Homo sapiens: one gene and its partners. The protein of the gene in region 1 interacts with the protein of each later gene in a pairwise test. Each region holds a gene or a part of one and is shown in the gene's direction. Other genes may lie near its edges. The genes, in order: MIPOL1, NTAQ1, CDC37, EIF4E2, BYSL, KIF9 and FAM90A1.

The links.
Region 2: the proteins of MIPOL1 (region 1) and NTAQ1 interact in binary tests that used the Homo sapiens proteins (3 or more experiments, as listed by UniProt).
Region 3: the proteins of MIPOL1 (region 1) and CDC37 interact in binary tests that used the Homo sapiens proteins (3 or more experiments, as listed by UniProt).
Region 4: the proteins of MIPOL1 (region 1) and EIF4E2 interact in binary tests that used the Homo sapiens proteins (3 or more experiments, as listed by UniProt).
Region 5: the proteins of MIPOL1 (region 1) and BYSL interact in binary tests that used the Homo sapiens proteins (3 or more experiments, as listed by UniProt).
Region 6: the proteins of MIPOL1 (region 1) and KIF9 interact in binary tests that used the Homo sapiens proteins (3 or more experiments, as listed by UniProt).
Region 7: the proteins of MIPOL1 (region 1) and FAM90A1 interact in binary tests that used the Homo sapiens proteins (3 or more experiments, as listed by UniProt).

The regions. Positions count from the first base shown.
Region 1 is NC_000014.9:37,267,437-37,270,936, forward strand, and holds part of MIPOL1 (mirror-image polydactyly gene 1 protein), read left to right. Parts: intron 1-1,221; coding exon 1,222-1,357; intron 1,358-2,983; coding exon 2,984-3,089; intron 3,090-3,500.
Region 2 is NC_000008.11:123,423,274-123,426,773, forward strand, and holds part of NTAQ1 (protein N-terminal glutamine amidohydrolase), read left to right. Parts: intron 1-3,500. UniProt on the Homo sapiens protein: Mediates the side-chain deamidation of N-terminal glutamine residues to glutamate, an important step in N-end rule pathway of protein degradation.
Region 3 is NC_000019.10:10,393,543-10,397,042, reverse strand, and holds part of CDC37 (hsp90 co-chaperone Cdc37), read left to right. Parts: intron 1-839; coding exon 840-1,115; intron 1,116-1,499; coding exon 1,500-1,608; intron 1,609-1,699; coding exon 1,700-1,815; intron 1,816-1,899; coding exon 1,900-2,022; intron 2,023-3,500. UniProt on the Homo sapiens protein: Co-chaperone that binds to numerous kinases and promotes their interaction with the Hsp90 complex, resulting in stabilization and promotion of their activity. Inhibits HSP90AA1 ATPase activity.
Region 4 is NC_000002.12:232,560,689-232,564,188, forward strand, and holds part of EIF4E2 (eukaryotic translation initiation factor 4E type 2), read left to right. Parts: intron 1-3,500. UniProt on the Homo sapiens protein: Recognizes and binds the 7-methylguanosine-containing mRNA cap during an early step in the initiation. Acts as a repressor of translation initiation.
Region 5 is NC_000006.12:41,927,999-41,931,498, forward strand, and holds part of BYSL (bystin), read left to right. Parts: intron 1-2,133; coding exon 2,134-2,272; intron 2,273-2,636; coding exon 2,637-2,770; intron 2,771-3,397; coding exon 3,398-3,500. UniProt on the Homo sapiens protein: Required for processing of 20S pre-rRNA precursor and biogenesis of 40S ribosomal subunits. May be required for trophinin-dependent regulation of cell adhesion during implantation of human embryos.
Region 6 is NC_000003.12:47,272,800-47,276,299, reverse strand, and holds part of KIF9 (kinesin-like protein KIF9), read left to right. Parts: intron 1-809; coding exon 810-975; coding exon of another isoform or gene 976-992; exon of another isoform or gene 993-1,072; intron 1,073-2,641; coding exon 2,642-2,748; intron 2,749-3,500. UniProt on the Homo sapiens protein: Essential for normal male fertility and for progressive motility of spermatozoa.
Region 7 is NC_000012.12:8,220,760-8,224,618, reverse strand, and holds the end of FAM90A1 (protein FAM90A1), read left to right. Parts: intron 1-403; coding exon 404-603; intron 604-1,061; coding exon 1,062-1,170; intron 1,171-1,834; coding exon 1,835-2,797; 3' UTR 2,798-3,359; downstream 3,360-3,859.

The DNA.
Region 1 (3,500 bases):
GAGATTGTGCCACTGTACTCCAGCCTAGGCAACAGAGCAAGATTGTCTGAAGAAAAAAAAAAAAAGAGAAAGTTAGAATTGGAAGAACTTTTTCTCCCTCCCTTCTTCCCTTTCTTCCTCTTTCCTTCTTTCTTTTTGGTGTTGGCTAATTCTAAACTTATTAGAACTTGGCGAATCTACCAGGGTTTTCTACTGTTTCCATGGTATGGATATAATATGTCTAGTTAACTAAGTGAAAAAGCACAAAGTGCATCTGAAGAAAGACAGGTTTAATTCTATTTTATTCAATATTATTTTCTGTGACCTTTCTTTATGTATTTGGAAATAACTGTTAAATTGATATACATGACATATCATTCATGAAAGTAAAAAACTGGCAGCTCCAGGACAAGGTAAGCCCAAACATGCATTTTGGTTTGGGTTAGCGCTATTTTTCATTTAAATGAATTTGATGCTTTTAAAAGGGCCTTGTTCTCTACCATTTGCATTCCTCATTATTTTACTTTCTCAGCTTTTACCCAGTAACCTTGCCTACCTAGCTCATGAAAGGATTTGAATTTGTGATACCTGATACTTCTACCCATGAGATTAAGGAACTTTGATAATTAGTCATGTGCTAGAAAAATATTATTAGATTTAAAAAGAAGTTTCAGTGACTAATATATTTTCAGTCTAGACAAAATAATATTTTGCAGCATACTATTTTTAACAGATTTTTGCATAGGAACTTTTATTCTACTTTCAAATTATTCAGTAGATATGTTAATAGATAGTAACATATAATGAAATAGATGTATTGATATGTTCCCATCCCTTTTTCAGATTCTTACTAAGGTGTAGGTTGGAGTCCCTTTTGAGGAGTAGAAGCACAGAAGAATGAAGTAGGGATAAACATTTTATAACCACATGGGTAAAGTAAATAGTAGAGATTGGGCTAAAGTCAGATTATGAGATATCTAGCATAATTACAACAGGAGATGTACGTGGTAAATAGAGCTGCACTGACTGTCCCAGCCGTCACTAAATTTCTTCTTAGTGACTCCAAAATTTACCTGTGCTTACAAATTTAATATAAGGCCTTCAAAAAAACAGCCCATCTCTTTTCCTTTCCCTTCCTTTATGGTGTTTGCTTACAAGTTGATACTGTTCTCAAGTAGCATACAAAATGTCAAAAAATTAGTTTATCTTACTCTGAAATGTTAATCAGTTTCTTTATTACAGCGTTATGGAACATAGACATAATGATATGCATTATGAATGTATGACTCCTTGTCAAGTTACTTCAGACTCAGATAAAGAGAAGACAATAGCATTTCTTCTAAAAGAATTGGATATTCTCAGAACAAGCAATAAAAAGGTATAATATGGAAAGTCTGATAATTGTATAGTATGGGTTTAGCTGTTGATCTTCTAAATTTCCTTTGTTGCCCATCATAATTCAGTTTTATTTTGCACTTTAATCATTTAACAGTAGCTTTATGTTTTTGCCATACCTTGCCATCAGGGTATGGTTGAGTTAAGGGGTTGAAAATGAAAGCATTTTTTTGATTTCATACCTTGCTGGTCCACATTAGCACTTCCTTTTTCATAAGCCCCTGGTTCCTTGTATACATATCTTTAAAAAAAAAGATTCAAGTTTTAGTAAAACTCTGCTTCAGTATTATAGAGAATGGGAGATAGAATGCACTGGTTTCATGTTACTATCTTAATTTTTTTTTCTTTATTAGTATCCATGCCCTATATTTGACCTCAATAATACATGTAATTAAACATTTCAGTAGCAAGGCTTGGCAATATTGTCATTTACCTTGTGTTAATCTTATACTGCTGCATTTTGTCCAGTCCAATTTGTCACGTTATGTTTTATCTTCTGTTCTGACTCTTATTCTAGTTATAGTCATGTGATCATTAAATAATTTTATTAAATAATGTGCATTTTCTGTGTCTTCTTTTTTTTTTAACCTCTACATACTGCTCTGATTTTAATATTCTAGTTGTGTAACCTAATCAAACTGAAGCATGATGTTAGGAATGTTGATCATGTTTGGAGGAAAACAACTAAAATGACAAAAACCTAGGGAGGAATTAAAAAAACATGTGGAGGGATTCTGTATGAGATGTTTTCTGTACTTTCATTTAGCAGTTATTTATTACATGCCACTTATGAGTCAGGTGTCAGTGTCAATTTAAATGGAATATGATGGGGTAGTATTCTCAAAGGGAGATTTGTATCAGATATTAAGATTATTGTCTTAATTTTGTTTCAGAATATTGGATTTACTAAGATAAACTGTAAAGCAGTGCTATCTGTTATTTTATTAGGCAAATCCCTTCCAAATATTTTGCATTAAGAAAAAAGGATGAATGAGACTGCTTTTGCAGTAGTCATTATTATTATTATTTTTTTTGAGATGGAGTTTCACTCTTGTTGCCCAGGCTGGAGTTCAATGGCGCGATCTCAGCCCACTGCAATCTCCGCCTCCTGGGTTCAAGCAATTCTCCTGCCTCAGCCTCTCGAGTAGCTGGGATTACAGGTGCCCGCCACCACACCTAGCTAATTTTTTGTATTTTTAGTAGAGACGGGGTTTCATCATGTTGGCCAGGCTGGTCTCAAACTCCTGACCTCAGGTGATCTGCCCACCTCGGCCTCCCAAAGGGCTGGGATTACAGGCGTGAGCAACCACATCTGAACTGCAGTAGTTATTTTTAAGAATAATGTTGGTCCTCTGAATTTAATTTGCCTGTTCATGCACATATACACATAAATTAAGTGTATATTGGGATGTTTTTACAATTTCTGTATAACTACAGGTAATTATTACTTTATAAATAACTTAAATTTTAAATTTTTTTCTGGAGTTATCTATCTAGGAAGTTAAATATAATATAAGAATTAAGAAAAAACCAAAAACTTTGAAATTAATTATATTTTTGCAAGACATTTGTCAAATAAGAATCCATGATTTTTTTCAATGTGCTTTAGCTTCAGCAGAAATTGGCTAAAGAAGATAAAGAACAGAGAAAACTAAAGTTTAAGCTGGAACTCCAAGAGAAAGAAACAGAAGCTAAAATTGCTGAAAAGACAGCAGGTATAGTAGAGGAGTATTAACACATGGCTTGAAGAATCACACACAAGGTTATTATATGATGTATCTTGGTGAATACTAGCATACTGGCTTATTTGCCAAAGGAGGGGAAGCTCTCCTTTTTTTTTTTTTTTTTTTGGCTGCTTAGAAAATAGGTGGCTTTAACATCCTGGTACTGGTATTAGTGAGAGCTTTACCTGTATTCATACTGATTTGGGCATTAAATGCATTGTTAACACCATGTCAATCCAATCACAAAAAGGTTGTTTGTTTTGTTGGAAGGGGCTGAACAAACAAGGGGAAATAATGATTACCAGTGCCTCTACCTTTCAACCAGCAGTTCAAATACCACTTATTGTTTTAGCTCGTTGAGAGGAAATACTTCTCCTTTGTATGAAGATAGTCACATATTCA
Region 2 (3,500 bases), on another chromosome or scaffold:
CTCTCTTTCCTTCCTTCTCTTCTTTTGTTTTCTCTTCTCTTCTTTTTTCTTTCTTTGTCTTTCTTTTCCTTCCTTTCCCTCCTTTCCTTCCTTTCCCTCCTTTTCCTCCCTTTCCCTCCTTTTCCTTCCTTTCCCTCCTTTTCCTTCTCTTCTGTTTCTCTTTTTCTTTCTTTCTTTCTTTTTCTTTCCGGAGGGTCTTGCTACATTGCCTAGGCTGGTTTCAAACTCCTGAGCTCAAGTTATCCTCCCACCTCAGCCGAGGCATTGGGATTACAGTTGTGAGCTACTGCACCCCACCTACAGGTATTTTTGTTTCAGCTGTGACTCCTTGTATTTCCGAGTATAAGATCATCTCCCCCTTTTTTTTAACATTGAAACTTTCATGGGATTCTCCTACATGATATTCGTTATGCTCTTGAAAAACAATTGCTGACTAAAAGGGACTAAAAAGTCAGTGACTTTTACGAAGTTTACATTTTTTTCTGTGTAACATTTACATATATTTCAAAAATAACAGTGTATGTTCAAGCCACATTATGTATTCAGCTTACCAGTGGTGCTTGTGGTATCTGTGGATTCATGAACTCTTTGTAGTTTTTATTATTATTATTATTATTTTTAATTTTTAGATGGAGTCTTGCTCTGTCACCCAGGCTGGAGGAGCAGTCGTGCAATCTTGGCTTATTACAACCTCTGCCTCTCGGGTTCAAGTGAGTCTTGTGCCTCAGCCTCCTGAGTAACTGGGATTATAGGTGCATGCTCCTACGCCCGGCTGATTTTGTGTTTTTATTTTTATGCGTTTTTTTTTTTTTTTTTTGAGATGAAGTCTCACTCTGTCACCCAGGCTGGAGTGCAGTGGTGCGATCTTGGCTCACTGCAACCTGTGCCTCCCGGGCTCAAGTGATTCTCATGCCTCAGCCTCCCAAGTAGCTGGGATTACAGGTTTGTGCCACCACGCCTAGCTAATTTTTGTATTTTTTTTTTTTTAAGACGAAGTCTTGCACTGTTGCCTGGGCTGGAGTGCAGTAGCACGATCTCAGCTTGCTGCAACCGCCGCCTCCCAGGTTCAAGCAATTCTCCTGCCTCAGCCTCCTGAGTAGCTGGGATTACAGGTGCCTGCCACCACACCCATCTAATTTTTTGTATTTTTAGTAGAGACGGGGTTTCACTATGTTGGCCAGGCTGGTCTTGAACGCCTGACCTCATGATCCACCCGCTTCGGCCTCCCAGAGTGCTGGGATTACAGGCGTGAGCTGCTGCGCCTGGCCATTAATTTTTGTATTTTTAATAGGGTTTCGTCATGTTGGCCAGGCTGGTCTTGAACTCCCAACCTCAGGTGATCCAAGGTCTTAAACTTCTGACCTCAGGTGATCCGCCTGCCTTGGCCTCCCAAAGTGCCTGGATTACAGGCATGAACCACCTCGCCTGGCCCCTTTGTATTAACTCTAAGCCCACCCTTAGAGGGGAATGAACAAAGAGAAACTACAACCTATACCTCTTCCCATATCCCTCCGAATTAATGACACCCTCTTCCTTTCTGCATGCATCTTTTATGGCCTTCTATGATGCTTGCCAGTTATGGATTTGTATGTCTCTGCTCATGGTCTGTAAGCTCTAATTTATCATCATATCCTCCAAGCACTTAGCACAGTATTTTGTACATTATAAGCTCTTGAAGGTATTTGCGGTAAACTCCCGAAAAACTTGTATAAGCCAGAGAGATAATTGTCTTCTTCAAACCTGGCCTTAGAACATTTAGATTAAGGAAATTTTATTGTGACGTAATATGACATATACCATATGTCATGTTGAAACAGTCAATAAAATTTTTTTTTTTAGAGGTTGTCTCTCTCTGTCGCCCAGGCTGGAGTGCAGTGACACAATCTTGGCTCACTGCAACCTCCGCCTCCTGGTTTCAAGCGATTCTCCTGCCTCAGCCTCCCGAGTAGCTGGGATTACAGGCATCAGCCACCACGCCCAGCTAATTTTTGTATTTTTAGTAGAGACAGAGTTTCACCATATTGGCCAGACTGGTCTCAAACTCCTGACCTCAGGTGATCCACGTGCCTCAGCCTCCCAAAGTGCTGGGATTACAGACGTAAGCCACCATGCCCGGCCCAGTCAGTAAATTTTTATTACTCTATAGTACATATCATATGAAGTAGTCAGTAGCAGTAGCAATCTTCCCACCCCCCCACTTTTTTTTTTTTTTAACCACAACCATCACTTTTCCCTTGTAGTTTCCTAGTTATTTTAGAGAAAAGGAAAACCATGGGAGAAAAACATGTCCAACTTCCGTATTTTAAGCCTAGTTTTATAGAGCATTTGAGACAGGCAAGGCAAAGATTGATGAACTGAAAGAGTGTCTACTTCTGTAAGATGGTGACCATCCTCAGGGCTGTTCATGCCTTGCTTCATTTTTAGGTAGCATGGCGTGGATGAAATTAGGCTTTGGGCCGGGCGTGGTGGCTCACACCTGTAATCCCAGTATTTTGGGAGGCCGAGGCAGGTGGATCACCTGAGGTCAGGAGTTCAAGACCAGCCATGGCCAACATGTGATGGCCAACATGTGAAACCCCATCTCTACTACAAATACAAAAATTAGCCAGAAGTGGTGGCATGCATCTGTAGTCCCAGCTACTTGGGAGGCTGAGGCAGGAGAATCGCTTGAATCCAGGAGGTGGAGGTTGTAGTGAGCTGAGATTGTGTCACTGCACTCCAGCCTGGGTGACAGAGCGAGACTCCGTCCCCGCTCCCCCCTGCAAAAAAGAAACTAGGCTTTGACAGACTGAGCCACATTCTGTGAACAGAGTGTTAGTGTACCTCATTTTGAGCAAAGGTGCGTGTATCTTACTAGAAAAAGATAGGAACCCAACAGCTGAGCTGTGAGTACTGCCCGAAGTGACTGGTTTCCTGTGCATGGAGGTGCAGCTCAGTTACTGCTCTGTTTGATGTACTACTGGGCATCACTTTACTTAGGTGGGTTCTGACTACTGCTTCAGATAGCCAAAGACCTGTCACGTAGAAGAGAGATTCATCTGGGGCAAAGGTATGGGAAGATTGATTTCAGTTCAGTATGAGAAAGAACTTTCTAAAAATCAGGCCTCTTGAGAAGGCCAGGCACAGTGGCTCATACCTGTAATCCCAGTACTTAGGAAGATTGAGGTGGGAAGATTGCTTGAGCTCAGCAGTTCAAGACCAGCCTGAGCAACATGGCAAGACCTTGTCTCCACACACACAAAAATAATTTTTAAAATTAGTTGGGTGTGGTGATGTGCATCTGTGGTCCCAGCTACTCAGGAGGCTGAGGCTGGGAGTTTGAGGCTGCAGTGAGCTGTGGTTGAGCCACTGCACTTCATTCAGCCTGGGCTATGGAGTGAGACCCTGTCTCTAAAAATAAGCATAGGCTGGGCACGGTGGCTCACTCTGTAATCCCAGCACTTTGGGAGGCTGAGGTAGGTGGATCACTTGAGATCAAGAGTTTGAGACCAGCCTGGCCA
Region 3 (3,500 bases), on another chromosome or scaffold:
GAAGTTGCCATCATCAGGAAGGTGGTTGGGGAAGGGGTCCTCGCTAAGGCAACATGGAGCCCAGATGGCACGGGTGCCATGGAGTCAGCTGTGGGGGGCTCTGAAGGAAAAGCATTCCAAGTAGTTGGAACAGCCAGTGCGAAGGCCTTGAGGTTCAAGAAAAAAGTGGGCTCCGCAGAGTGCAGTAGCTCCCGCCTGTAGTCCCAGCACTTTGGGAGGCCGAGAGGGAAGGATCGCTTGAACCCAGGACTTCAAGACCAGCCTGGGCAACATGGCAAACCCCATCTTTACTGAAAATACAAAAATTAGCTGGGCGTGCTGGTGCACACCTGTAGTCCCAGCTACTTGGGAGACTGAGGTGGGAGGATCGCCTGAGCCCAGGGAGGTCGAGGCTGCAGTATGTCATCATTGGGCCACTGCACTCTGACCTGGACGACAGAGTGAGACCCTGTTTTTTGTTTTGTTTTGTTTTGTTTTCTTAAACAAAAAAAATGGCCTCAAGAAAAGGTGAGAAAAGTGAGGGGCTGGTGTAGCTGGAAGGAAGAGTTACCAGGGGAGGTGCCGAGGCAGATTGTGTAGGGCCCATGTAGGCTGTGGTGACAACTTGGGTTCTGCTGTGAGATGGGAGCCGCCAGGGTTCTGAGCAGAGGACGGAGGGACCTGACCCCACTTGGGTGTGCGCTGGCACCTGTGGGCGCAGGGGCGGAAGCTGGGAGACCAGGGCACGGGAGGTGGACGCGTACTTTTTCCTGGGGCCATCTCCGGTGCAGGGATTGGGTATGGGGCGGGGGTAAGGGACAGACGACTCCCCAGAGTTGATAGGCCGTCCCTGCCCGCAGGCCCGGGTGGAACGCATGGAGCAGTTCCAGAAGGAGAAGGAGGAACTGGACAGGGGCTGCCGCGAGTGCAAGCGCAAGGTGGCCGAGTGCCAGAGGAAACTGAAGGAGCTGGAGGTGGCCGAGGGCGGCAAGGCAGAGCTGGAGCGCCTGCAGGCCGAGGCACAGCAGCTGCGCAAGGAGGAGCGGAGCTGGGAGCAGAAGCTGGAGGAGATGCGCAAGAAGGAGAAGAGCATGCCCTGGAACGTGGACACGCTCAGCAAAGACGGCTTCAGCAAGGTGTGCGGGGCGGGCGGGGCGGGCAGTGCGCATGCGCAGCCAGAGAGCCTGCAACCAGGACGCATGCGCACCCAATGCCTGGTCAGGGGAGGACCCCGGTGGTGTAGTTGAAGAGTGTGGTGGGGGGCGGGGAGCTGAGGGATGGACGGGGGCCACGTGGGAGGGGGGACAGGCTTGGGGGGCCGGGCGGATGAAACACCCCACCGGTCCCCTCCTCTGATCTGCCCCAAGGCCCATGCCCACGCTCCCGCCACCTTGATGCTCATGGCTTCGTCACCACCTCCGCCGTGGATGGGATGGGCGCTGCGACCACGGCCCGCCCGGCCGCGCTCGAGGCGCTCCGCAGCCTTGCCCCAGCCCACTCCCCCTCTCACCCTACCACAGAGCATGGTAAATACCAAGCCCGAGAAGACGGAGGAGGACTCAGAGGAGGTGAGGGAGCAGAAACACAAGACCTTCGTGGAAAAATACGAGAAACAGATCAAGCACTTTGGTGAGTGGGGCTTGTGGGTTATGGGGGGCAAGGTCGAGGCAGGCCCTTTGCCTCCAGGGCCCTCCAGCACCTTGCCAGCATCTTCCCACAGGCATGCTTCGCCGCTGGGATGACAGCCAAAAGTACCTGTCAGACAACGTCCACCTGGTGTGCGAGGAGACAGCCAATTACCTGGTCATTTGGTGCATTGACCTAGAGGTGGAGGAGGTGAGTGGAGCTTTCCCCGGGACTGTGAAAAGGCGCTGCCATGAGGCCGCCACTTGGTGACGCTGTGCCTGTTCTTCCTGGCAGAAATGTGCACTCATGGAGCAGGTGGCCCACCAGACAATCGTCATGCAATTTATCCTGGAGCTGGCCAAGAGCCTAAAGGTGGACCCCCGGGCCTGCTTCCGGCAGTTCTTCACTAAGATTAAGGTAGGGTCCCTGAGCTGCCAGGTGGCTGGAGGCCCCCTCCCCAGGGAACCAGCCCACAATGCTCTAGGTAAGGCCGACTCCTCTCCACTGGGACTCAAGCCCCTCCAGTCACCGCATCCTAGATCAGGAGAGGGTGGGGCCAGGGAGGAGGAGAGAAGTGGGCAGATTCTGCCAGACTTTAAAAGTGGAGGCCGGGCGCAGTGGCTCACGCCTGTAATCCCAGCACTTTGGGAGGCTGAGGTGGGCAGATCACCTGAGGTTGGAAGTTTGAGACCAGCCTAACATGGAGAAACCTCATCTCTACTGAAAATACAAAATTAGCCGGGCATGGTGGTGTGTGCCTGTAATCCCAGCTACTCGGGGGGCTGAGGCAGGAGAATCGCTTGAACCTGGGAGGCAGAGGTTGCTGTGAGCCGAGATCGTGCCATTGCACTTCAGCCTAGGCAACAAGAGCGAAATTCCATCTCAAAAATAAATAAATAAATAAATTAATTAATTAAATAAAAGTGGAGGTCAGGCCAGGCTTGGTGACTGAGTACTATAGTCCCAACTATTTGGGAGGCTGAGGCAGGAGGATCACTTGAGCTCAGGAGTTTGAGCTGTGGTTTGCCACTGCACTGCAGCCTGGGTGACAGAGCAAAACTGCATTACAAAAAAATGTGGGAGCAGTAGGATGTGCTGAAGGTACCCAGGTGAATATGTGGGTAAAGGACAAAGGTGAGGGTGCCTCTAGGGTTTTGGGTTTTAGTTCATTTTTGAGACAGAGTCTTGCTCTGTCACCAAGGCTGGAATGCAGTGGCGTGATCTCAGCTCACTGCAACCCCTGCCTCCCGGGTTCAAGCAATTCTAGTGCTTCAGCCTCCCAAGTAGCTGGGATTACAGGTGCCTGCCAGCCTCAGGGTTTTTTTGTTGTTGTTGTTTTGTTTTTTTTGAGATGGAGTCTCACTCTGTTGCCCAGGCTGGAGTGCAGTAGCACGATCTCGGCTCACTGCAACCTCCGCCTCCTGGGTTCAAGCGATCCTCCAGCCTCAACCTCCTGAGTAGCTGGGACTACAGGCATGTGCCACCATGCCCGGTTAATTTTTTGTATTTTAGTAGAGACGGGGTTTCACCGTGTTAGCCAGGATGTTTTCGAACTCCTGACCTCGTGATCCGCCCGCCTCGGCCTCCCAAAGTGCTGGGATTACAGGCGTGAGCCACCGCGCCCGGCCTAGCCTCTAGGATTTTTAACCTGCGTACCTGGAGGAACAGGGCTATCCTTACCGAGATTAGGGAGACCAAGGACAAGGCAGGCTGGGAGGTGGCCATGTTGAGTTAGAGGTGCCCATGCAGGGACACTGAGGACATGAGTGTCTCAGATCTGCAGTAGAGCAGGGCTCCCAAGCAGGTGGTCTTTGGCAAATGCCAGATGAGGTCCCCGGCGGGGGAGCCCAGGCCTTGGGGAGCCCTTCATGTAGGTCAGGAATAGACTTGGGGAA
Region 4 (3,500 bases), on another chromosome or scaffold:
GGAGAAAATATTGCAAATCATATCTAATACTTGTATCTAGAATACTCTTACAACTCAGTTATAATCTGCTTAATATGAAATCAACATCATTACTATGCTGAGCTGATAAAATTTCAGCCTAAAGCAAAGATCTTGTTTAGTTTGCCAGTGCTATCTTAGAATCAGCAAACTTAGGGGTTTTGTAATAATAAACTACCTTGTGCACTGGTTCATATTTGGTTCAATAAATGCTTGTTGAATGAATTCAAGGCTCTAGTAGGCTTCTAAAAGGAATGAAGGCACAGATCCTGTCCTTGGGGAAATAAGATGTGCCCAGGAATTTCTAATACAGGGAAGACAGTAAGTGATACTATGGGAAAGGCATTTAGAGTGCTCTTGGAGTTTGGAGGAAAGAAGGAATTGATTCCAGTTTGGGGAATACTGCCTTGGAAGAGATGGGTTTAAGATTGATTTTAAAGAATTTGGCCAGGCCTGGTAGCTCATGCCTGTAATCCCAGCACTTCGGGAGGCCAAGGTGGGAGGATCGCTTGAAGCCAGGAGTTCAAAACCAGCCTGGGCAACATAGTGAGATCTTATCTCAAAAAAAGATTTTTTTGGAGTAATTATGCATACTTCTTGCATTTTTATTTCCCTCTTGTGAAAAAAAAAAGCATATAAGAATTTACCCAAATTGTACGAGGAGGGTTTTTCTTTTGTTTCAGTGTATATGTTAAGGAGTGGTTTATCATCAGGACTATCTTGGGTTAAGGCTTCATCCATGCTCACTGGATGTGTGACAGTATTTAAAGTCTGTCATTTTGACTCTGTAGGTCTGGACCTGAAAAATAGAAATAAAGTCTGTTGTGTAATTCAGGTCACTAGGAAATGGCTCACAATATTAAATGCATCACAGATAAATAATTACATTATGAATCCTTTTATCAAATTGAAAGCAGTGTTTCCCAGTGATTCTTAGCCTAATCATTAACAACATTTAAAAGTTCTTGAAGTCAGAGTGACTAGGAAGGCATCATCTTGAAATGGAAAGAGCACTAGACTTGGTAATCAGAGCTCACCTATTCTGATGCTTGACCCTCTTGGTTAGAGCAACTCAGTCCTGAAACCTTTCTCAACTATAAAACAAGTTGCTGACATGATTTCTGAGGTCCTTTCGGCACCTCATATTCTGAGTCTGTGAATGCTTATTTTTTTTTTTGGTTTCAATTAGAACTGTCAAATCTTTTAAAGTTTAATAATATTTCTCAGGCCAGGCACAGTAGCTAATGCCTGTAGTCCCAGCACTCAGGGAGGCCAAGGAGGGAGGATCACTTGAATCCAGGACTTCAAGACCAGCCTGGCAACAGTGTTAGACTTCATCTCTACAAAAAAAGTAAAAAAATAGCTGGGCATGGTGGTGCCCACTTGTGGTCCCAGCTACTCAGGAGGCTGAGGCAGGAGGATTGCTTGAGCCTGGGAAGTCGAGGCTGCAGTGAGCCATGATCACACTGCTGCACTCCAGCCTGGGTAACAGAGCAAGACCCCATCTCAAATGATGAATGAATGAATGAATGATAGTCTCGAGCTGTTTAACTTCATCTCTCTTATGGTTTGCATATAAGATTGTGCAGTGGGGCTGGGCGCGGTGGCTCACGCCTGTAATCACAACACTTTGGAAGGCCAAGGCAGGTGGATCACCTGAGGTCAGGAGTTCGAGACCAGCCTGGCTAACATGGTGAATGGTGAAACCCCATCTACTAAAAATACAAAAATTAGCCAGGCGTGGTGGTGTGTGCCTGTAGTCCCAGCTACTCGGGAGGCTGAGGCAGGAGAATCACTTGAACCCAGAAGGCAGAGGTTGCAGTGAGCTGAGGCAGGCTGCACCATTGCACTCCAGCCTGGACAAAAAGAGCGAAACTCCATCTCAAAAAAACAAACAAAAAAAAGATTGTGCAGTGTAGTTGTAAGATTGGGGAGACCAAACTGTTAAAGCGATTATTGACTGGGGAACTGGAGATGGTTGACATACTTTGTCCTCACCAAGCCCCTTTCAGTTCCTTATTCACAATGAGCCACTAGTGGGTGTACTTGGTTCTAGTGGGTATATGTGGTTTTATTCAACTATGTTAGGGTGGATAAAGGTTTACATTATTGCCGATTGTATTCATATGACCATTTACTATTCCGAGTCACTACATGCAGCTAAGCTTAGCAGTTGCTGAGTATAAAGCACTGCCTTGAAGCCCTATAGATGGCGTTAGTTCTGACTTCTTTTTACCATGTAAGATGCATCACGTGTGCTTGTGCTAGAGAGGAACTAAAGGGACAGCCATTTCACGCAGTGTAAGGCTGATTTCTCCTTAGGTGCTCCCCATATCTAGAAGTATGACCTGAATCTTTGTCTACTCGATACCCATTGTCAGCTCCACAGTTGTGGTATCTTGCTGTATGTTGATTTAGAGCCTGCTCAGCAGTTTAGCAGATACCAGCTATTTCTCATTGGAATGTTCCGTGTTTTCTCTTTCCTCCTAAAGTGTGCCTCTTCACTGGCCAGTACTTACTACGTATCCTCTGTGAATAAGGAAATAATCTTTCCTATCAAGACACTAGTGAACCTGTAGTCCCAGCTACTTGGGAGGCTGAGATGGGAGGATCCCTTGACACCAGGAGTTAGAGGCTGTGATGAGCTATGATCATACTGCTGCGTAGACCCTGTCTCTTTTTTTTTTCTTTTTTTTTAAGGGGAGGGGGGGTGACACTAATGAGAAAAACAGGACTACTGTGATGAATACAAATAAGCATATACTTGATGGAAAAATATAAATCTAGTTTTCTCACGGGATTGTGAAGGAGCGGCAAGGAGAAACATAATTTTTCTAGCTAAGAAGAGGGCCTTAAACCCTAGCTATGAGAAGCTAAGTCCTGTATGATTTTGGATTGGCCTGGACTTAGCAACAGCACCATGATGTAGAGTGGTATGTGTGGTACATGTGGTTGATTCTATCACTTACGCTTAGTAACTAAACAGGTCTAAGAGGTATTTACATGTGGTTGATTCTATCACTTATGCTTACTAACTAAACAGGTCTAAGAGGTATTTCATTCAGCAAATGCTATATTTGCCAGTTAAACAATCTTTCATCGGTAAGTGATTTGGTTCTAAAAAATGCATTCAGGCTGAGGCTGTGTGACACTTACATACCTCAAGGCTAAAGAGTTTCCATTGTGCAAAAACCTGGTCCTCTTACTGCATGTGATGACTACCCTGCAGCTTGAGTGGGAGAGTGCGTATTAACATGGTTTCACCAACTAAAGCTCCTGGCTGAGGCTTGCATTTCTCACCAAAGATTTTATTCTTGAATTGCGAATGTTACATTTTTTATTTTGTCAAACTAGATGGTATGTTTTTCCTCTAATATGTCTTCCCTCACAACACCACACATGAAAATGAGTCCTCTGAAAAGGACAGCCTGTAGTATAGTGTCTTCCATGCTTATGTTCTTAACTAAATCTCAACCTTGGGA
Region 5 (3,500 bases), on another chromosome or scaffold:
GATATCTCTGATCTCTACTTCTAGACTCCAGTAGCAACCTTCCCCCAGTTGTGAAAACCAAAAATGACATCAGACATTGCCAAATGTCCTCTGGGAGGCAAGACTGCCCCTAGTCAGGACCACTAATTTATTCCCATCTATAATAAATGCTAGCTCCAAAACATGCAGGCATTTAGACTGCCTGTGGTCAAACTCCTGAGCCCATAAATTTTGGCCCTTGGGAGTGGAGTCTAGGATAAGGGTCCTCAACCAGTTCATTCTGACCCTGTGATATTAACATAATGGTGTCCCTGATACTTTAGGCTGTTTTGGGCTAATGCATCTCATTGCTAATCATACTATAAAAGGACAGGGAGGCTGATAAATTCTGTGGCAGCTTATTTGAAAATGCAGAATGAAGAAATGAAAATGAGCCCCTCTCCCAGATTGATGCCTAACAGTTGAAATATATGTCATAAAGTATGTACTTGGGCTTGTCCCCCCAGAGAGCCTCTCAGGTTCTCACTCAGCACCTCATAACTCCTACTTCACTGATAATGCTGACCAATTTAGCAGAATGCTTTTCCAGCTTGTAGTAAATAGAGTAGACAAGCTCCTTGAAGTAATCAGAACTCCTGGCAGTCGTAAGAAATGATAGCTGGCATCTTCAGAAAGCAAGCCTAGATCCACATGAATTCAACAATCAGAGGCCATTTAGTTTGGGGGCACATTATAAGGTACTATAAAGCACCTTAACTCAAGACTTCCAAAAACCTGAGTTTGACTCTTACCCCCACCTGACAGCTGTGAGGCCTTGGGTGAGTTATTAACCTGAGGCCCAGTTCCCATGTCTGCATAAGTTTCCGTGTCCTATAAGTGTTGCGCTGACTCTAGGACTGAAAAGTCCCAAACTCAGTGCCTGGCATTGAGTAGGACCTCAGAAAAGAGGAGCAGTTTGTTTTTTGTTTTGTTTTGTGACAGGATCTCACTCTGTCACCCACGCTGGAGGGCAGTGGCATGATCTCAGCTCACTGCAACCTCAGCCTCTCGAGTAGCTGGGATTACAGGCACGTACCACCACGCCTGGCTAATTTTTGTTTTATTAGTAGAGACAGGGTTTCACCATGTTGGCCAGGCTGGTCTCAAACTCCTGACCTCACGTGATCCACCTCCCTCAGCCTCCCAAAGTACTGGGATTACAAGCGTGAGCCACTGCGCCCAACTGAGAAGCAGCTTTAAATACATTTCAGTCTGGGCATGGTGGCCCAGACCTGTAATCTTAGCACTTTGGGACGCCAAGGCAGGAGCCCAGGAGTGTGAGACCAGCCTGGGCAACATGGGGAGACCCCATCTCTACAGAAGAATAAAAAACTAGCTGGGCCTTGTACTATGTTCCTGTGGTCCCAGCTACTCGAGAGACTGAGGCGGGAAGATCGCTTGAGCCAGAGAGATAGAGGCTGCAGTGAGCCATGATGGTGCCACTGCATGCCAACCTGGGCAACAGAGGTAGACTCTCTCTCAAAAAAAATAAATAAATACACTTCAGCAGCCTCTGAAGATGCTAGTATTATATGACAGCTCAAGGCGATGGTAATTCTGAATCATTAAGATAAGATTATGTTTGATACACCCAACAATACTGTTTAAGGAGGCTGAAAAGAATATAATCAGTCTTAGAAATATTTCCATAGATAACGCTTACTGTGTACTGACCATTCCAAGTAATGAACAGACATTAACTTATTTAATCCTTCCATTAATCTTTTAAGGTGGGTACCGTTATTATCCCTATTTTACAAATGAGGAAACAGAGGCATAGAGAGGTAAAGTAACATGCCCAAGATCATACCAGGGAGTGGGTGAGCCAGGATTTGAACCTGGGCAGACTGACTTCAGAGTTGAGGTTCATAATAACCTCCGTACAACTGCTAGCTTTGTCCTAAATGGAATGACTTTCAGTTCCTTTGCACCCTGCAGTGATTCTGTCTGTGGTGGATGAATGGGCACAGAGAGAGAACTCTAAGCTGCATATCCCAGCAGGATCGCAGTATGGCGGTGCTCACAGGGGACTGTGGGGAGTCTGGAGCTTCCTGGACAGTGACCACAGTGCTCCTTGCCCCCTCTCTCCCCTCCTCTTGGCACTTCCCCTCTTAGGCGCACCCTGGCTGACATCATCATGGAGAAGCTGACTGAGAAGCAGACAGAGGTTGAGACAGTCATGTCAGAGGTGTCGGGCTTCCCTATGCCCCAGCTGGACCCCCGGGTCCTAGAAGTGTACAGGGGGGTCCGGGAGGTAAGAGCTGAGAGGGGAGCCATGGTGGAAGACCCCTTTGGGGGCTGTGGGCTCCTGCCACAGGCTTTTTTGCCTTTTGCCTGCATCACATACTAAAGAAGTCATGGGAGTAGAAAACAGACCTAAGAGGCAGAGTGTGTGGGTTCAGATTCCTGCTCTGCCTGTAAATGACTTGGCATCCTTGGGTCGGTTACTGGAACTCTCACTGGTCATCTGTAAAATGAGCATAATAATGGCACCTCCTTATAGGTTATTGTGGGGATGCAATGAGTTAATATATTAAAAGCACCCAGACAAGTTCCTAGCCCACAGCAAGCTTGCCATATGTGGATGACGATGATTGTTTTACCTCCCTCATCCCTAGGTATTATCTAAGTACCGCAGTGGAAAACTGCCCAAGGCATTTAAGATCATCCCTGCACTCTCCAACTGGGAGCAAATCCTCTACGTCACAGAGCCGGAGGCCTGGACTGCAGCTGCCATGTACCAGGCCACCAGGTAGAGTAGCTGGGGGTTCGGGGGCCTTGGGTTTATAGGTGCAGGCTGAGTTTGGGACGGACAGGCTTTCCTTGCCTCTGGCCCCAGGGCATTTGAGCTTTGCCCCAGGGCCCTCTCTGTGCTACTTTATAGCATCATTTTTCTAGCTTTTCCTGTGTCATTTTTTGGGGCCAAGACCCAGTTAGCCAGTTAGGAACCCTCCGTGATGAATTTCTAGGGGAGAGGCTTTTATAGCTACTGGGATACAACCCTCTGTGATGAATTTCTAGGGGAGAGGCTTTTATAGCCACTGGGATACAACCCTGTAGCAGGACCCTCAGAAGTCTGTGACTGCCCAGGCATGCTCAGGGCTACTCAACTGATGCTGAGTAGCCATCAGTTTGCACGAGCTCTGGCTCTCCCACAGACAAACGGTGCTCCTCATTTGGGTATATCTCATTGCCCCTCCTATTCTCTCTCTAAGCTGATGGGTGTTGCATGCACACAGCTCCCACACATCCCCCACTGAAAGAAAGGTCCCATATTTTACTTTAAAACCTCTTGTATGCACTATCCATGGTGATATTTAATGGGCCGGGTCCAGACTGTCGTGTGAGTTGGAAACTTCCCCCGCTTAACTCCCACTAGGATTTTTGCCTCTAACCTGAAGGAACGCATGGCCCAGCGCTTCTACAACCTTGTCCTGCTCCCTCGAGTACGAGATGACGTTGCTGAATACAAACGACTCAAC
Region 6 (3,500 bases), on another chromosome or scaffold:
ACAGGCGTGAGCCACCATGCCCGGCCAAGTCTGTCTTTCTTCATCTTAATTTTTCTCTCTGTAGCCAGGTATAGCTCCTGCATTAGGGCAGTCAGTGTAAGATTTCAGCAAGAGTCTTTACATCAGAAGTTCTCATCAAGAAGATTGGAATCTACCACTGACCTTACCCAGTATGTCCCTAAGCCAGCTGCTACTACAATGGCTTACTATGAAGGGGCATGCATCTAAAAATCTGCTGATGACACCCTCAATTTACTCTTAATTCCTATGTCTGAGAAGTCCATAGCCTTCTCTGTGGCTTTCATTTCATCATCACTCACTTTGGCTCATAGCGTGTGTGTGGAAGTAGATGTTCACCATAATGCAGAGCTGAGGGAGGCCTCACTGCCAGCAACCAGAGCAATGAGGCTGGAGCCCAGGCCTCTGTTACCAGGCTCACTATTCCCTCTGGCATAATTCAAGGCCTCCCTATGCTTATGGAATCTATCTAAAACTTGTTTAATAAGAACATGATAAATTTGACCTCATATCATAGGTGGGGAAACAAAGACAGCACCGTGTGAACTAGGGTTAGAGGTGCTAAAACTAGAAAGTGCTCCACTCTCCTGATCTTTCCATCTCCCTGCAGGAACTCTCTTCTCCCATCCCAAAGAATTCATCTGGAATATCAGCCCCTACGTGGGAGTCCCCATTCATCCTACAGTTCATTTCCTCTGTTCCCTCCAGATTAGGCCTCAGCTATCAGTGATTTTTTTTATACCCATTTTTGAACAAATAACATTTTTTTCTTTCTCACTCTTTTTTCCTAGAGCATTGATATTCACTTAAAAAAAGACATTCGGAGAGGAGTTGTCAATAACCAACAGACAGACTGGTCGTTTAAGTTGGATGGAGTTCTTCACGATGCCTCCCAGGACTTGGTTTATGAGACAGTTGCAAAGGATGTGGTTTCTCAGGCCCTCGATGGCTATAATGGTAACTTAATTAATTAAATGTTGTCTTATGTAAGAACCTGAGGAGTAAGAGATGCAAATATTTTATGGTGAATAAAATAAAAGCTCACTCACTATCATTTGTATGTTTGTCTGTCTCCATGTTCTTACGTTGCAAAACTTACTGTTTGCTTGTTGACATTGTGGGCATGGCTTGATCCAATGTCCTGGGATTCTACCTTCATAGGAAAATTAAAAGACTATGGCTCTCTATAGGTCACAGGGGTTCAATTATCCTGTTTCAAATCTCTCAAGTATTAGTTTTGAAGATACGTCTTTATGACAAATTTGATGGAGTCCAAACATTTGTCTCTCAGCTTCCTGCTAGGAGCTATTTTCATGTATTCTACCAACACAATCAATGTACAGTTGATATTCTAGTATAGGATTGTATAAAAGAATATGTCACAGTTTGTAGACTTTGCCATCTGGTGGCTGCTGACTAGGATGTTCCCTGTTTTGCAAGTTTAGGTTTTATATTTAAAAGTGCATTGAGTGTAGATGCTGTAATTTATCCTGAATGTGATACGTAGGTGTGGTCCCCACTGACTTAAGGAGGTTCTCTTTTGGTTTTCATGATGCTCTGATTGTGACCTTGAGGAGGTGAAGACAGAGGAACTAAGGCCCAGGGAGATGAATAGTCTTGAGCACTGGTGCTGTGGAACCACAAATGGGCTCTGATTTGCAGCTGAAGTGACTCCTTCCTGTTCATTTGTGTTGGGTTAATAGACACCATTTCTGGCTCCAACTCAGATGCTGAATCAGGATCGCTTGTGTAAAACCTGCCACCAGTCCCAAGAACTAGAGTGTCTGTGTGACAAAGGCAAAAAATTTTCACAGCCCAGCATTGCCTGGGCAGATCTGCCATGTAAATGCCCATGGGCAGCCTGTGGGATGGGGTCTGGCTCAGGCTGCCCATGCTAAGGGGAAGAACAGATAGGAGCCGGAGCTCAGGGTGACTGCATGGTTTGTGTCCCGGAGCCTGGTGGTGATGGTAGACCTAAAGGATGTTGAGAAGTGCAATGAAAGTCTTCCCAGGGTGGGCAGTGGACCAGATCAGGGCCTGATCATGGTGGTACATTTCTGGAAGTGACATGGAACCAACTAGGAGCCCTGTTTCATCCTGCAGGAATTTGTAGTCTACAAAGAATTCTCACCCTTGACAGAAAATGCCCTTTCCACTCCATCTCTTCCTGGAGATTTTGAAAGCCCCTCTTTGCCTCTGTGGGGAAGTTGATGCCTCCTGCCAACCCTGAGACCCTGGCAGTTCATAGCTGTGCTAGAGAAGGGCTGGAGTCTAATGCTCCTATCTCCCTCCTCATCTTTTTAGGAAAAGTTCCAGTTCCTCTGTACCCTGAGATTCCCTGTCCTTCTCAGAAGCCCTAGGGCCGGATCATCTCTTGGTGGAGGGAACAGCAGAGCATTGTGGGGACCACAGATTCAGGGCAGATGTCCTTGTTTTGACCACTTTTGTCCCTGTTCCCCTGCCCACCCATCCTCTTCCATGGTGGAATTCCTGATGTTCTTGGCTGCCCCCACTGGCCATCTTCATGCAAAGGGCCCTGGCTGGCACCAGGCATGCTGGGAGAGGGGAGAGTTATCCTTGGAGCTATTTTCCTGGATGTCACCGTGTTTTGAAATGTTTGCAGGCACCATCATGTGTTATGGGCAGACGGGAGCTGGCAAGACATACACCATGATGGGGGCAACTGAGAATTACAAGCACCGGGGGATCCTCCCTCGTGCCCTGCAGCAGGTAGAGAGTGGGCCCAAGGGTGGGATGCCACACAGGTTCCCTCTCTCTGCCATAGATGTTACTGACCCTGGGCCAGCTACTAGAGACAGTGGGGACCAGGCCTCAAAGGAGTTGCAGTGGATACTGGTACTGGAGACAACATACACAGGGCTCTGGAGTCAGTAGAGTCAGGGGCCTCAGGAAACCAGGAGGTTGGGTGTCAGACTCTGAGCCATACCCACACTGAGCCTGTTTCCTCATTTGGGAAGGAGGGAGTCAGGCATGCTAATCAGCCTCTTGCTGCTCCAGTGGTCTGTGATCCTGTAATTAAGGATTTGGAGGTCCTAATCATTCTCTTTCCTGGTTTTAATGAGGGGCATATAGACCCTTGCAGAACTTCCTTACTGGCCTACTCTGGCTTTTTTCACCACCACAGCCCCTGAAAGATCAAAAGCAAGAAGGAGGGCATGACTTGAGCTTTCAGGACTGTGTCAGCCCGGGGGGTCTCAATAGCATAACTGAAGATAAGACAGAAGGGCCTTCCTTTGGGCCCCACTAGCCTGGGTTCTGTAAGGACCCTCTGGTCGGAGGTAGGAGGCAAAAGCTGCCAAGAGGCAGCTTTACAGCCCTGTCCTATAAGAAGTGTTATAGGACAGGATTTTTTGCAGCCCTGTCCTATAAGAAGTGTATACATTCCTCTAGTATGTGAACCATCCATGCTCCTGTTTTTGGAGCAATACCCTTAATATCCCACTGTCAAAGCTTCAGTATCT
Region 7 (3,859 bases), on another chromosome or scaffold:
CCAAAGAGTTCTGTCACCACCACCCAGGTTGCTTTTCCCATCCAAGGTGGGCGTGGCTTGGGACCTCCTCCCCGGCCCGATAGGCCCCTTGAGAGACTCTTGGGGGCAACCTCCCTTTCTACTTAGAGTCCTGTGTAGCCACGTTTGGCTGTGTTGTTGACATCGGGTTCACCATCGTGCCCCTTAGGACCTTGAGTCCTGCCTTTTAGAGTTCCTCCGTCACATGGGCTTTGGGAGGGAACATCGTATCCGAACTCTCCCAGCACTTAACGGCCCCCATGCCGGTGTCCCCTCTTTGGAATCCTTATTCAGCTCTGAATTCACAATCCGTCTCAATGTTGACGTGGGATCGGTGCCTGTGGCTTCAGCTCACTCACTGACATCACTTCCTTTCCACCCACAGCTCAAGTGCAAAAACTGTGAGGCCTTTGGCCACACGGCCAGAAGTACCAGGTGCCCCATGAAGTGCTGGAAGGCAGCCCTGGTTCCACCGAACTTTGGGGAAAAGGAAGGGAAGGAAAACCTGAAACCATGGAAGCCCCAGGTTGAAGCGAACCCTGGGCCCTTGAACAAGGATAAGGGAGAGAAGGAAGAGAGACCAAGGTGAGCAGTGGGAGTGGTTTTCACCACTCTTAGGGTACTGCCTCCTAAGGACATGGTGTCTCTGCACCTGCACACCGTGTGCCTTTCCGTCTCCGGGCCAGGGAAGGAACGCTGCAGAGAAACAGACCGGAGCTCTGTGTCTTCCGGAGTTCCACACCCAAGAGCTCCTTTGGCTCTGGGAGATTCAGGGACGGGGAGGGGCGGGGGCGCTTCGTGCAGGTTCCCCACGACAGGGGGAAAAGTGATGGAATCCAAATCACAGTCCTTAGTTGGGAAGCCTAGAGGGCCACCTGGAGGATGGGAAGGTTGGCACGTGAGGGAAGGTGCAGAGGCGGAAAGGGCACCAGATGTCCATTTCTGTATCACAAAACACGGAATGGGACTGGGCCCCAGACAGGGTTCTCCCCGTCTCCTGGGGAAAACCAGGGAGGACGGCCTGACCTTTTTCTGTTCTGCAGGCCACAAGACCCGCAGAGGAAGGCTCTCCTCCACATATTTTCCAGGAAACCTCCAGAGAAGCCGCTGCCAAATCAAAAAGGATCCACGGAATCTTCTGATTATCTGAGGGTGAGGGTCACCCTGGGCCCCTGGTCTTTTTCTCCTCTAGGTCACCCTGGTTGATTTCCTTTCAGCTTCCCGTCTGCGGGAGGGAATCGGGGAACCCCTCTTTCTTGCCTTCTTGGGGTCAGACACTCCACGATCCTTCCAGGTCAATTTGATTCCAGGCGAAGGCATCTGAAGATGCCGTATTTCCTGTTGCTTTCTTTCTGTCCAATTATGGCAAGCCTGCCAACAACACGTTCCTAGCGGCATGAGGAAATTAGTCCCTCAGAGGCCCCAAACGTGGAGAAGGCTAAACCCAGGAACATGCATATGTTCAGAGAAGACGTCCTGAGTACCCTTGAGCCACCAACCTGCCTTCGGAAGGGCATCAGTCGGTTCCACTTCATGGAAGGCTGAGTGGAGGCGCTTTGATCCAGCTAATGCCTAAGACGCAATCTTTTGAACAATGGTGTGCTTAGATCAGCTACACATAGCTCGAGAGCGCATCTTTCATGTGTCTTGTCCTGATCAGCACTCAGGTGGAGGGTCTGTCCCTACTTCCAAGGACCGCCTGTCGATAGTGTACTAAGAATTTCATGGCGTGTGCACCTTGTCTTTGGATGTGGTTGATTTTCATGTTGGCTCCATGCTGAGGAACTTCTAACCTGTGTTGTTTCCTCTCTTTCAGGTTGCAAGCGGGCCAATGCCGGTCCACACAACCAGTAAGAGGCCGCGTGTGGACCCTGTCCTCTCTGATCGCTCAGCTACCGAAATGTCTGACAGGGGCTCCGTCTTAGCTTCACTGTCTCCCCTCAGAAAAGCCAGTCTGAGCTCCTCCTCAAGTCTTGGACCAAAGGAAAGACAGACAGGGGCTGCGGCCGACATCCCTCAGACTGCAGTCAGGCACCAGGGCCCCGAGCCTCTCCTCGTGGTGAAGCCGACACACAGCAGCCCTGCGGGTGGCTGTCGAGAAGTTCCCCAGGCTGCCTCCAAAACCCACGGCCTGCTCCAGGCCGTCAGCCCCCAGGCACAAGACAAACGTCCTGCGGTGACCTCACAGCCCTGCCCACCAGCCGCCACACACAGCTTGGGCCTAGGCTCCAATCTCAGCTTCGGGCCAGGAGCCAAGAGATCTGCCCCGGCTCCGATTCAGGCTTGCCTGAACTTCCCCAAGAAACCGAGACTGGGTCCCTTCCAGATCCCCGAAAGCGCCATCCAGGGAGGTGAGCTGGGGGCCCCGGAGAATCTCCAACCTCCGCCAGCCGCAACCGAACTTGGACCACGTACGTCACCCCAGACAGGCACGAGGACACCCGCCCAGGTGCTTAGCGGCGACCGGCAGCCTCCGCACAGCAGACCTTGCCTGCCTACTGCCCAGGCCTGCACCATGTCCCATCACCCAGCGGCCAGCCATGATGGGGCCCAGCCTCTCAGAGTGCTCTTTCGGAGACTGGAAAACGGACGCTGGAGCTCCAGCCTGCTGACGGCCCCCTCATTTCACTCTCCTGAGAAGCCGGGAGCCTTCCTCGCTCAGAGCCCTCATGTCTCAGAGAAGTCTGAGGGTCCCTGTGTTCGTGTCCCACCAAGCGTCCTCTATGAGGACCTTCAGGTTCCCTCCTCCTCAGAGGACAGCGATTCTGACCTGGAGTGAGACTGCAGGTGGCAGGGGCTCCTTGGCCTCCAGCTCCCGTGACTTGGAGGGGACTGTGGGACTGAGGAGCACAGAGCAGAGAGCAGACTCTGTGCGGTGACTCCGAAGCTCCCCGGCTGTGGCCCTTCTGTGGATGTGGGAGCCCAGGCCAGGCAGGGAGCAGATGCAGGGACTCTGCCACGTTGAATTCTGGTGAGGGACATTGTAGTTCGCATGGTTCTCTGGAAACGCGCCAGGAAAAGCTTCCGTGCCAGTGATTCGTTGCCTCAGAAACTGCATGACGCGCAGGAGTCAGACTTCCGCTGGGACGTCAATAGGAAACGGGGGAATTACTGTGTATTTGCTCTCTAGACGACTGAATAAGGGAAAAGTTAGGGAACCCTGAGAGGTGCAGCCCTTCCGCTGTGCCCCGCCCTGAGAGCAGTGTTTCGGACGCTGGGAAGCGCGCTGTGCAAAGCGCTCTCGGGGTCTTTCCTCAGCCTCGAAAAGTGGGCTCTGGAATCCCTTTGTAAATAGGTGTGTTGAATTTGTTTTGAAGTGAATAAAATTCTCAAAAAGATGACATATTGTCTTTTGACTTTCATTCCGTGTTTGTGTTTAACTGATTTTCCAAGTGAAGGGGTGGCCTGCCCCTCCACACCTGTGGGTGTTTCTAGTCGGGTGGGATGAGAGACGGAGAAAAGAAATAAGACACAGAGACAAAGTATAGGGAAACAACACTGGGTCCAGGGGACCGGCACTCAGCACACCAAGGACCTGCACCGGCACCGGCCTCTGAGTTCCCTCAGTTTTTTTTATTATGATTTTCATTACTTCAGCAAAAAGGAATGTAGTAGGAGAGCAGGGTGATAAGAAGGAGAAGGTCAACAAAAAAAACATGTGAGCAAAAGAATCTATATCATAATTAAGTTCAAGGGAAGGTACTATGCCTGGACGTGCACGTAGGCCAGATTTATGTTTCTCTCCACCCAAATATCTCAGTGGAGTAAAGAATAACAAGGCAGCACTACTGCCAACATGTCTCGCCTCCCGCCACAGGGCAGCTTTTCTCCTAGCTCAGAG